Linked DNA regions of Homo sapiens: regions 2 and 3 are each linked to region 1. Evidence: fine-mapped expression QTL. A gene starts in region 1. Each other region holds a variant in brackets. All regions are shown on one strand. Distances are from middle to middle.

The links. PIP is the estimated chance that this variant, and not a neighbour inherited with it, causes the effect.
Region 2: its variant is the best candidate, but not a certain one, in a credible set for the expression of ANXA2R-AS1 in prefrontal cortex (CommonMind, PIP 0.87).
Region 3: its variant is the best candidate, but not a certain one, in a credible set for the expression of ANXA2R-AS1 in pancreas (GTEx, PIP 0.86).

Annotation. Positions count from the first base shown.
Region 1 is chr5:43,040,623-43,044,622 of GRCh38, forward strand. It overlaps ANXA2R-AS1 (ANXA2R antisense RNA 1), which reads left to right and starts at 1,512. Exons shown (of 2, transcript NR_015447.1): 1 at 1,512-2,945; 2 at 3,821-4,000. All of the region lies in intron 2 of ANXA2R-OT1 (ANXA2R overlapping transcript 1), which reads right to left. It also overlaps a transcript of ANXA2R not described here. RefSeq lists enhancers at 1,006-1,085, 1,556-1,845, 2,045-2,582, 2,066-2,275, 2,356-2,555 and 3 more.
Region 2 is chr5:42,987,161-42,991,514 of GRCh38, forward strand. FLJ32255 (a long non-coding RNA gene) reads right to left here. Exons shown (of 2, transcript NR_104643.1): 1 at 3,679-4,354. Among named protein-coding and RNA genes, the nearest start is that of FLJ32255, 4.0 kb to the right of the region's middle. The variant A/AAC (reference allele first, on the strand shown) is at 2,050.
Region 3 is chr5:43,069,312-43,073,665 of GRCh38, forward strand. All of the region lies in intron 2 of LOC100506639 (a long non-coding RNA gene), which reads left to right. Among named protein-coding and RNA genes, the nearest start is that of ANXA2R-OT1, 4.0 kb to the left of the region's middle. The variant G/A (reference allele first, on the strand shown) is at 2,562.

The sequences.
Region 1 (4,000 bases):
TCTGTTTCAATGTGTTGTACCAGAAAAATGTGTTGCGGCATTTAATGTGTTTTAATCCGTTCAATGTGTTTGATAGGTTTAATATGTTTTAACCCGTTTTAATGGGTTGTGACAGAAAAAGCGCCGGCTAATGGTACCACACAATTACTAGTGCGAACAGCGGCTCGGTGCAATCACCGTTCTGCACGGCAAAACGGGGTTCAGGAAGTTCCTAGGAGATACTAGCGGTTGTAGGAGCGAAAAAGTGACAGCACTGAGAACCTAAGGACCCCGCGAACGGGAAATGTCACGTTGGGTGCAGCAACTGAGAAAACGCCCAGTGGGCGCCACTGGCAAACGTGCTGATACAAAACCGCCAGCTCTGCATAGGAAGCGGAGCCTCCAGACAGAACCCGGAACCTGATACCAGCGAGGCTAAGACCGAGCTCGGCTCCCCGGCTCCTGAGAGAATGAAAGTCAAGAAGCACGAATCTGAGACGCTCAAAATTAGAAGAAAAAAAAAATACATAATTTAAAATAATGAAAGTCTGAAATGCAAGTAAAAATGAAAAACACATCGGTAACATTGTCCTCAGAGCAAGACACAAAAATAATTTTAAGGTAAGCAAAAGTTACAGAGAACCAACCCTACAAAGAAGAAATTACAAATATGGCTAAGCGATGCAATGCCTACCATTAGAATATTTCTGTCAGATCTAAACCCCTGCAGGTTGCTCCTGTCATAATTTCCTACGAGAAAAAAAACAAAAATATCCACGGTTAAACGTGTTTAGCTACGTCTAAAAAATCGTAGTAGCTGGTACATCCCGATTTGGTCTACAAGAGGAAAAAGTCTCGATGGGCAGGACTTGCTATTGTCAAAGGGAGCTTGGTAAAACTGAGACATCGCGATCGCCGGCATTTCCTGACTTCCACGGGAGTTTTAAAAACACACAAGCATAGCTAAGACAGGACTCGATATTGCGAAACCAAACTTGGTATAAGAGCTCCCAACACTGCTAAACTGGTCATCGCTAAACCTTTAAAAAAAAAAAAAAAGCATTCGCTGGTACCCAGATTTCCACAGGAGTTAAACATTTCCTGCGCAGCTAAAGCAAGTCTTACCAGTAGGAAACCGGAACTTGCTAGGACTAAGAAACTTGAGGCTAGGCTGACCCCATGGTTGTTATGATTAGAAATCCGAGGCCACTGGAAACCCGGAGCTGCTGACCAACGAGTCACAGGGTAACTTCGCCTTCGCATGGGGAAACGGGTGAGTTCCTACGGCCTAGATATCGCAGCCAGGGCTAGACCGGTGTTTGTCTTAAGTCAGGACTTGCTTGGGCTGAGAAAATACATTTTGGCTATTCCCCTACTTGGACAGAGGGTGGAAATCCCAGGCACCGCGAAATCGAAACTTGCTAGGACTAAGAAGCCAACGACGCGCGAAACCGTGGGGTCCTGCGACAGAGACGCCGGCGGCGCCGCCACAGGACTGCGTTCTGGAGGCCGAGCCGGAACCCGTGCGGCGGCGCTGGGAAGAGACTGTGCCCCTGCAGCTCCCCTGTCACCGGCTCCAAGGAGCGTCGGGCTCCCCCCGCCCAGCCCTGCAGCACCCATCCGGCAACGCCAGACTCGGCGCAACGGGGGCAGCTGCGACTTTAAATCTCTCAGATCCGCGGCCTGAGGGCTGCCGCCACCGAGAAATGGAGGCACAGAGCTGTGAACAAGAGACCACGGCTCGCCGAAATGGCGGTGCCAGGAGCCTGAAAGGGAATGCAGCCGGCGGGGTTGTCAAGGACAACATTTGTTTTGGCGCAACCAGCGGTGCCGTCACCAAGAAACCGTCGACTCTGAGAAAAAAAGAGAAGTTCGGCTACCGAGAAACTCCGTGCAGCAAGTGCTGTGACAGCAAAACCGCCGGCTTCGCGCCGCTGGCGAAAGAGCCAACGGAAACGCCGGGTGCTGCGACCGCGAAGCCGGCACTAGAGGGCCTCGGATGGAGAAAGCCCCGCACCGAGACGAGGAAACTGTGCACAGCACGACTAGCAGTTGACACAAACAGAAAAGTGTCTCGTCTGCTCTCTGGGAGAAAGCGTGGATCAAAACCAGCAACTCAGTGGAGAGAACCCCGCAGCCACTGAAGAAGTTGCCCACGTGGCGGTGGGGCCAGAGAAACACCGCGATTTCGACGACAGCCGTAGGGATACCACAGAGAAACATGCGCGGCCACAGAAGTACATCCAGCTCCGCGCAATCAGTGGTTCTGCGATCCAGAAACCGCCAGCTGGGCTAGACTAGAAACTTCTAAAAAACTGTCGTCCCATAGCAGCTTTCCTAACCACGACAGACAGTCGCCTTTAGAGAGCACCTAACGGTGCTGAGACCGGCCTGGGCCAGCAAAAGCGCAGAGCGGTGCCAGTGCCAAGAAACGCCCGACTTGGTGAAACCAACCTTGTGACCACCGATTCCACTGGCTTCGCAGGACGCAACGGGCGAAGGCGCGGCGGAGAAACCGCAGGCTCCCTTCACCGATTATGCTGCGGGCTGGGGATGGTGGGGGGCACCCGCGAAATTGTGAAACCAGCGGCGCTGGGACCCAGCGATCAGCTGCCCGTAGCAAATGTCTGTGCAGTTGCAAAAGATAATTTTTGGCCGTGAGAAGGTTGCCGCCAGAGAGCGTCCGATAACGCTGACAAAGGCGTGGCGTTGCCAGTGAGAAACAGCCGGCGCTGGGAAAGGAACGGTGCAGCGACCGACCAACTGCGCGCTCGGTGCCACCAAAGTGCTACTGGCTCTACCCACTCTGTCCCCCACGGGCTTAGGGAAGTCTGATGTCTTTTTCTTTTCTTTTTTCCTCTGTCGCCTAGGCTGGTGCAGTGGTGTCATCTTGGCTCAGTGCAGCCTCGACTTCCTGGGATCCAGCGATCCTCCCGCTTCAGCCTCTAGAGTAGCCGAGACCACAGGTGAGTGCTACCACCCCCGTCTAATTTATATATATTTATATATATAAATATATATATTAAAATATATATTTTATATTTATATATAATATAAATAAATATATAAATATAAATATATATTTTTATATATTATATAAAATATATAAATATATATTTATTTATATATTATATATAATATATATATTATATAATATATATATTATATAATATATATATAATATATAATATATATATTATATATAAAATATATTATATATAATATATATAATATATTATATATTATATATTATATATAATATATATAATATATTATATATAATATATAATATATAATATATTATATATAATATATAAAATATATAAAATATAGTATATAATATATAAAATATATTATATATAATATATAATATATAAGATATATAATATATTATATATAATATATTATATATAATATATTTTATATAGTATATAAAATATAAAATATATATTATATATAAAATATATATTATATATAAAATATATATTATATATAAAATATATATTATATATGAAATATATATATATAAATATATATATATTAGTGACGGCGGTCTCGCTATGTTGCCCAGGCTGGTCTCGAACTCCTGAGCTCAAGCGATTCGCCCGCCTGGGCCTCCCAAAGTGCTGGGATCACAGGCGTGGGCCACCGAGGCCCGCAGGAAGTCTGTATTGTTCTTGCATTCCACCCAGTGCATTACGCAGGGGGAGAGTAGTGGGCTTATGCGCCGAGAACCAAGCAGATCCTGTTGGTCCCAGGAACAAAGTATAAACCATTCTGGTCGCCAACAGCTTCCTACGCAGGAAACAGCCATCCACCCTCTGTGACTGGGCTTTTCCAGGTCACCCCTCGCTGCCAGGCTCTCTTCCCGGTCCAGAGCCCACAGGATCCTACAGGAGGGGCCAACAACTGCTTGCCTTTGAAACTTGAAACTCTCGGTCTAAGGTTCCTTAGGAGCGTAAAAGGCACAGCGTTTTCTGATCGCAGCTTCAGGTCTCCCGCCCCTGTCCCGGTACCTCTC
Region 2 (4,354 bases), 53 kb before region 1:
AACCTCCACCTCCCAAATTCAAGCAATTCTCCTGCCTCAGCCTCCCGAGTAGCGGGGATTACAGGCATGTGCCATCACACCCGGCTAATTTTGTATTTTTGGTAGAGACGGGGTTTCTCTATGTTGGTCAGGCTGGTCTCAAACTCCCGACCTCAGGTGATCCGCCCACATCAGCCTCCCAAAGTGCTGGGATTATAGGCGTGAGCCACTTTGCCTGGCCGGTATGTAACTTTTTCAACTTAGCAGCTATATTCTTTAGGAATAGAATGGAAGGCAGGTTTGCCCTAAAGCTCCCAGCTTAACTTTTCCTTTTGGCTTAGTGATTTGGGGGTCCCTGGATTTATTTTCCTTTCACATTTCCTCCCGTTTCTTTTTAAATTCTTTCAGATAAAGCATTTTACAAGAAAGTGAGTCTCCTCTAACATGATATTTGGAGGAGAAGAGCCATCTGATCTCTCATGGCTACGATGGTTTATTCCCAGTTGGGTAGGACACACATTATTAGGAGGGCTCATTTTTAGCAGGTTGTGAAGTCTCACATCCTATGAAGAGAAAATATGGGTAGGAAAGGAGAAAAACAGCGACAAACAAACCAAAAAAGATAATTCTGGAAAATCAATATGGGCCATAATACTTTGAAGTCCATACATCAGCAGGCAGGTATGAGAGTGGTTTATGTATGTACATAGGTTGTTCTTATTTACTTCTGAAGTTTAAGTTGTCTAGCTTCATTTTGCAGGGCTTTAAGAAAGCACAGTTTAGTTTTCAGTGATTTAAAATTAGGAAAAAATGGGTAAGGGAAAGGAAAAGAAAGAAGAAAATAATTGAAAACATCATTTTGGAGACTTTTAGCCAGAAAAAAATTTTGGAATTCAGTCCAAACTGTAGAAAATAATAAAAATTAAATAACATTAGGCAAGACTAGAATCTAACAGCATGTATACTATAGTTGTTGAAACATAATTTTTCTCTCTCCAGTTTCCCATTTTTACTAAAGAGAAATCATGGTAGGACCTATTCGCTTTATTATACTTGGTCTGATTATTTGTATAAAGTGCCGCAAGAACAATTATTTTTCACACAAGCCTTTTTAAATGACTTTGATGGAACTCTATTCCATAGAAAAAGTCTCAGATAAGACTTTTTAAAAGCCGAGCCCGGCCATGGCTTTGTACCATCGAATACATATGAGTTGGGTAAATTCCCCTCCTCTAGAGGTCCCAAGATCACTTGGGGCTCCTGGGCTTGTCAAAAAGTGACATTCTTTACTTACCACAAATCAGAAACCCTGTATAGGGTCTGTGTAGACAAGGTTTGGGGCCTGTTTTCCCAAGGAGCTTTTATTGGCTCTGTAACTCAAGTTTGACTCCTTAAAGAAAAGCACACCATTTCAGTCAAAGCCTTGGTAAAATAACCAGTTTCTCCAATGGTGTTCTGTTGCAAAAGAAAACATTCTTATTGCACTTATGCAAATAACTACATTGACATAAGTTAAGAATATTCACAAATAGTTTCCAAATTCTGGAGAAATCAGGTAAAGAGAAAGAAATATGCTCCAAATTTTGTTCACTGGAGTATACTTTACTGAATTGTTAAAAGCTGTCAATAGCTCAAAAGTAAAGTTTCCTTGACTCAGGAAAACATAAAAAAGGATCAGCAATTTTTTAAGGATCAGCAATTTTTTAGCAAAAAAGTCAACAATATCATTTCAGTCTTCTATTTGTTCGGTCCATGCAATTAACTCCTGTTTGATATTCACGAATACTTCAGCTCTCCATGAGAGTCCTAAAAGTTTACTCCTCTATTCCACTTTAAAAAAAAAAAAATGTTCCCAAGCAGACTCATGTCACATTTTTCTTTATTCTAATGTCACAATCTCCAGAGTAATTAGAAACCTGCATTCAAAAACACCTATCAAAATCCAATAGCTAATTATAAACGACCTTTTGAAGAGGACTGAAAATAAGACAATTGTCTGTGGATGACAAAGTCTTAGGACAGGGTTTTATAATCTATCAAACATTTGTGGAGAGTGTTTTACAAAAAAAA[A/AAC]AAAAAAAACAAACAAAAACCTTTGAGCTACACAGTGAATGTAAAGCTGAGGCTAGACAGGAATGGGATAGGGTGAATCTTCAGTCCCAGAGATCAACAGCCAATGGTTCATTTTTTGTAGGTTAACCTGACCTGGTGGAGTCCTCCATTGGTACCAAGCACAGTTCTTCACTTTCAACTCTAGATGACTTACCCCGGGGCACTTTTACCTTTTGCTTTCTGTCTAGCCTCCTACACAGTCTTTCTTTTACCTACTCTACTAGACTAAGTGATTATAACTGTTATCATCTTTTCTGAGCCTATAATCAAAAGTCAGTATCTGACAAAGAAGCAGATTGTTAAATCCAAGAATTTCTCTGTATCAGGAAAGTATTAATATGGATTCCTGCCTCCTCATTCATTAGTTGCACAGCTTCCTGCAACATAACAACTGGCCAGAAGATTCACCTGTGCAAATTGCCTGAGTGTTGGAGACTGCTTTTATTTGATCTCTCCCACCATCCACCCCGTTTTTGTTTTGTGTCACTTTCATTTGGTTAATAATATTCTAACAATATTTATCATTATAGTTATCTTGATTTGATGCAATTTTTCTTAATGAGATTGATAAAAATATTAGTCTTTCTTAATTCTTTATTATTTATTGTTTTGGATAACACACTGGAAAGGGAAATAGGAAAGGCTCTACATCGTTTGTCATATGTGCTCCACAATTTGCCCTCAAGTTTGATTCCTAGGTCCTACCACCCACACAAAACTGCCATCACCAGCCTGCTCCAATTCTACCCAATTACTAGCCATTGTCATAATTCAAAGTTCCTATGACCTCCTCCAAAGGAGCACAATTTTGTATTTGATCACTTTCTGACCTCCCTGGAATCTACCCCACCTCCAATCACACTAGGATTAGAATCTAAATTCTGCAGCTACCTTGATATCAGTCTCTGTAGGGAAGCAGCCTGCAGCCTCCTATGGACTCCCATCAAGACAGGTTACCTTTTCCCGCTACAGGGTGTTGCTCACAGATTTTTTTTACTAAGATGGGAAGCTGGAGTAGAAATGGGAACAGAGGGCCGGGCACGGTGGCTCACACCTGTAATCCCAGCACTTTGGGAGGCCAAGGCGAGCAGATCACGAGGTAAAGAGATCGGGACCATCCTGGTCAACATGGTGAAACCCCGTCTCTACTAAAAATACAAAAATCAGCTGGGCGTTGTGGCACGCTCCTGTAGCCCCAGCTACTCAGGAGGCTGAGGCAGGAGAATCCTTGAACACGGGAGGCAGAGGTTGCACTGAGCCGAGATCGCGCCACTGCACTCGAGCCTGGTGACAGAGCAAGACTCTGTCTCAAAAGAAAAAAAAAAGAAATAGGAAGAGAGAACTGATGGTAGGTATTTTGCTTTGCAATGACTCCAGACTGCTCTTCTATTTCATAGTGTCTGTAACTATGTGGGTGAGAACAGTGTAGTTTTTCCTTTATTCTTGCAACCACAGGACCAGGAGGCAATTGGAGGAGCCTCAAATAGCAGGGAAGGTTTTGGCTAGCTGAAGAAGGGGTATGGTGGGAGGGAGATATTGAGGCAAATCCCTTGGGAGACAGAATTGCAAGGGCAAAATAGATTTCCTTACCTGGCAGTGCCTTCTCTGCCTTTGTCCTGCCATCGCTTCTGCCTAGGATCCCCCAGAAAAGGATAGTACTGGTTTGCACAGGAGCAGAAGTGGTGAAAATGGGAAATGATGAGTGTGGATGGAGATGCTCATGGCAGGGTCTGTAGGTCTCTTTGAGGGGGCTCAACTCACAAAGTGCAGATTTTTATTGAAATATGAATGCTTGTAGAAAGGACATTTTCCTACTGAGCAATGGCAGTTCCATATTTCTTATCAGAAAGGAAGTAGGCCTCAGTCTGATTGAACAGTGAGGAGAGGGAGGATTCAACACTTACAAGTTCACCTGCATTGCATTTCCCAGAAGAAAGAAGAAAATCAATAACGCATTTCAAAGATCACGGTGCTAGAGACAGAGAACCACAATTTAAGCTTTTCCCTGGGCTTAGAGGCGGATGTCTCACTGCCAATTTCACGTCCAACACCGGAGCCTCGCAGTCCATTTTTCTCCCCAGCTGTTTTAGAAATATCCCCAAATATCAAGGACATCTGAATGAGTGAACCATCAGAATAAGGAGCGATTCCCACAGAGTTCCATCCCACAGGGAAGGGACGGGACCAGCGGGGCAGGCCTGAAGCCTGGGTTGAGCGGCGCTGTGCCTTTCATTCTTCACCGAGATCTCGGACCTAGAGTTTCCAG
Region 3 (4,354 bases), 29 kb after region 1:
AGGCTGGAGTGTAGTGGTACGATCTCGGCTCACTGCAACATCCACCTCCCAGGTTCAAGTTATTCTCCTGCCTCAGCTCCCAAGCAGCCAGGATTACAGGTGCATACCATCACACCTGGCTAATTTTTGTATTTTTAGTAAAGACAGGGTTTCACCCTGTTGGCCAGGCTGGTCTCAAAGTCCTGACCTCAAGTGATCCACCTGCTTCGGCCTCTCAAAGTGCTGGAATTACAGGCATGAGTCACAGTGCCCAGCCGCAAAGTATATTTTTGTAAAATTTCATCAAGATAAATCTGGCTAAACCAATAAACTAATAATAACAAAACTTGGGTTATTGTTGACTAAAGGAAGGTGGCACAAAATGGAAACATTTTTAAACATTCAAAAAAAAAAAAAGACTGGTCAGGCGCAGTGGCTTACACCTGTAATCCCAGCACTTTGGGAGGCCAAGGTGGGCGGATCATGAGGTCAGGAGATTGAGACCATCCTGGCTAACACGGTGAAACCCCATCTCTACTAAAAATACAAATCCTGGCTAACACGGTGAAACCCCGTCTCTACTAAAAATACAAAAAATTAGCCAGGCGTGGTGGCGGGTGCCTATAGTCCCAGCTACTCGGGAGTCTGAGGCAGGAGAATGGCGTGAACCCAGGAGGCAGAGCTTGTTTGCAGTGAGCCAAGATCGCGCCATTGCACTCCAGCCTGAGCGATAGAGCAAGACCCTGTCTCAAAAAAAAAAAAAAAAAACAAGGATAGTCTTTACACAGAAGTGGTATGCACAGGTGAATTGTCTGGGAAGTCAGGATGTTGCACAGAAGCTATGCAAGTCATAGATTAGAAAAGCAAGAATCCACATTCATGCTTTCCAGCATAGATGAGGAGATACTTTTTCTCCACCTTCTTAGATTCAGTGGCTGGGCAGAGAGTGCTGTGAATTCATCTGACAACAGGCAGATTAACACGAGAAAAGGAATATAAGTTTTTTATTTTTTATTTTTTTATTTTTTTGTTTTGAGACAGAGTGTCACTCTGTCTCCCAGGCTGGAGTGCAGTGGCTCACTGCAAGCTCCCACCTCCCGGGTTCACACCATTCTCCTGCCTCAGCCTCCCAAGTAGCTCAGACTACAGGCGCCCGCCACCATGTCCAGCTAATTTTTTTTATTTTTTAGCAGAGACAGGGTTTCACCTCCCAAAGTGCTGGGATTACAGGCATTAGCCACCGCGCCCAGCCAAGTTTTTTAATGTTTAATCTAATGTGCATGGAGGCATCATAGAAAGAACTGAATATCCAAAAGTGTGGTGAAATTTGAGACTTTAGATACCATCTTAATGATAGTGGCAGGAGGCAGACAAATCCTAGGGAGACAAGGGTGGGTCCCTGGTGAAACCCCACCTTCAAACCAAAGACAGTTTAAAGCATGAAAGCCAAGCTACAAGTCTCCAGTAAATCCATGGACCGGATTAAGAATCTCTCTTCCCCTTTAGCACACTTCCCTCTGATTGATCCACACACTTCACTTAGTGCACTTTCCTCTGATTGATCCCCACACTTCACCTATTTTACATATACCTGCCCTTCCCTAATTGTTTTTTTACACAGTTGTGCCCACCTTTGAGTGGTGCTTTTGTTTTAGCCTTTTTTGCATATGCACAAACCAATCAGCATGCACTCCCCCATTCTGAGCCTATAAAAGCCCCAGACCCTGCCACATTGGGAGAGAGACCACCCAACTTCTGGTGGGAAACCATCCTCGAATCCCCTCTCCACTGAGAACTGTTTTGTGGCTCAATAAAACTCCTCTCTGCCCTCCTCACTTTTTGATTTTCAGCATAACCTCATTCTTCTTGGATGCAGGACAACAACTCGGGATCCACCTAACACGGGTACAAAGAAGGCTGTAACACGGGAAGCAGCTGTTGGGCCAAACCAGCCCTGGAGCTGTAGGCCAGAGCAAGACCACAGGACTGACAGAGCTGTTAACACGCTGACATCTTTCGGGCTGCAGAGGGCGGGACTGAAAGAGCTATTAGCATGTTGTAACACCCACTCTGGGGCTTTGGGGTCACGGGCATCCCTGTTTGGGTGCCATCACATTCCCCTCATCTGGATGCCAGAGTCCACCATAGGAGTCACTTGCAACATGCCTGGTCCAGCCACAAGTCCCACACAGAGCCTGCTCCTGTGCTGGTGCTTGGAGCTACCAGTGGAACCCCACACTCACTAGCTCACACACCCCTCCTGCCAGGGGCTGAGTGCACAGTCATGGTGGCCACAGGATCTGCACCAGAGGACATGCCAGGCACAGCCCAGCAAACCGAGTAGATGGGGCATCTCCTGTGGTTAGCCTGGGCTCCAGCAAGGCCTAGGTAGGGCATCGCCAGCCAGAGGTCTCTGGCTGGCAAAGTTGCTGAGAAACATCCTATGTCATTAAGGAGATGGGGAGGGGCAGAGGGGCACTTATGGAAATATGAATGATTTTTTTTTTTGAGACAGAGTCTCTCTCTGTCGCCCAGGCTGGAATGCAGTGGCGTGATCTTGGCTCACTGCAAGCTCTGCCTCC[G/A]GGGTTCATGCCATTCTCCTGCCTCAGCCTCCCGAGTAGCTGGGACTACAGGTGCCCGCAACCACACCCAGCTAATTTTTTGTATTTTCAATAGAGACAGGGTTTCACTGTGTTAGCCAGGATGGTCTCGATCTCCTGAACTCGTGATCCATCCTCCTCAGCCTCCCAAGGTGCTGGCATTACTGGCATGAGCCACTGCACCAGCCACAAATGATATTTTAGAAGATAAATGGTCCTTTAGAAGAATAGATAAAAGATATGACAGTTTTTAGAGAATGTCTTTTTTTGGGTAGGGTGGGTGTAATCACCCAATGGTTTCATCTTGCCCATTGTCCACAAAGGCCAATGCACTGAGAACAGCAGCTTTTTTGCAGCAAAGAAAGACTTCAATAATTGCAGGGCTGGCCAAGTGGAAGGACAGGAATTCATTCCCAAATCCACCTCCCTGAGAATTCTTTTTTTTTTTTTTTTTTTTTTTTTTTGAGACGGAGTTTCACTCGTACTGCTGCCCAGGCTATATAGTGCAATGGCACCATCTTGGCTCACCACAACCTCCGCCTCCCAGGTTCAAGCGATTCTCCTGCCTCAGCCTCCCGAGTAGCTTGGATTACAGGCATGCACCGCCACGCCCAGCTAATTTTGTATTTTTAGTAAAGATGGAGTTTCTCCATGTTGGTCGGGCTGGTCTCAAACTCCCGACCTCAGGTGATCCTCCCGCCTCGGCCTCCCAAAGTGCTGGGATTACAGGCATGAGCCATGGCACCCGGCCAGGCTGAGAATTCTTAAGACAGGATTTTTTAAGGATAGTTTGGTAAGCATGGGGCTAGGGGATGGGTTGATGTGTTGGGTACTATGGGGAACGTGGAAGTGGAGAATAGTGTGGACTTTTGAAAGGATGTCTGCCTAGGAGTGGAGTTGGGCATGAGGGCAGGACTAAAAAAGAGTGAGTGAAGGAAAAGGTATGCAGGGAGCAGAAGAGTGGAGGGGTGGCTCGGGGTTTGGAGACTTGCCCGTCAATTCCCACAACAGAGACTTGGGAGGACTGGGTGGGTCCTGAAAAATTAGGTAAAGCAGAGTAGGTTGCCCGGTATTAAATAAGAAAAAATACTGGCCTACCTGCCACCATCAGGGTTACCCTTGTCTTAGATGAAGCAATGGTAGTTGCCGGGGCGTCCATTCCAGGGCCCCATCAGTCTTCAGTGGCAAGGCCAGTGAGATCCGAGTAGGAGGTTTTGGCCAGCTCAGGAAGGGATGGGAGTGGTCCTTGTGGGGGCCGCTCACAGTCCAACTTCCAGTGGGGTCCTCTGCAGAGGGGGCATGGCCTGATGGGCTTACCTGGGTTTGGGCATTGTCTAGACCAGTGGCCTTCATTGCCATACTTGAAACATGCGCCAGGTGGAGGTGGATTGCTAGGAGGCTTCTGTGTGGAGCTGCGGCCCTGTGGGCCTGCAGGGCCCCGGATGGCGGAGTCAAGCATTTGAAACTCTGCATGTTTTTGCCTTTTATTTTCCTCATCACGATTGTTAAAGACTTTGAAGGCTAAATTAAGAAGGTCTCGTTGTGGGTTTTGAGAGCCATCATCAAGCTTCTGTAGCTTACGCCGAATATCGGGGTGGATTGGGACATGAACTAAAGGTTTAAAATAGTGGTTCCTTCTGGGCTGGTTGGGTCTAGGTTGGTATATTTTCTCATGACTTCAGTTAAACAAGAGAGAAAAAGGGCTGTTTTTTCGTCAGGATCTTGGGGGATTTCTGAAAGTTTTTCATAGTTTATCGCTTTATGGGCACCCTTTT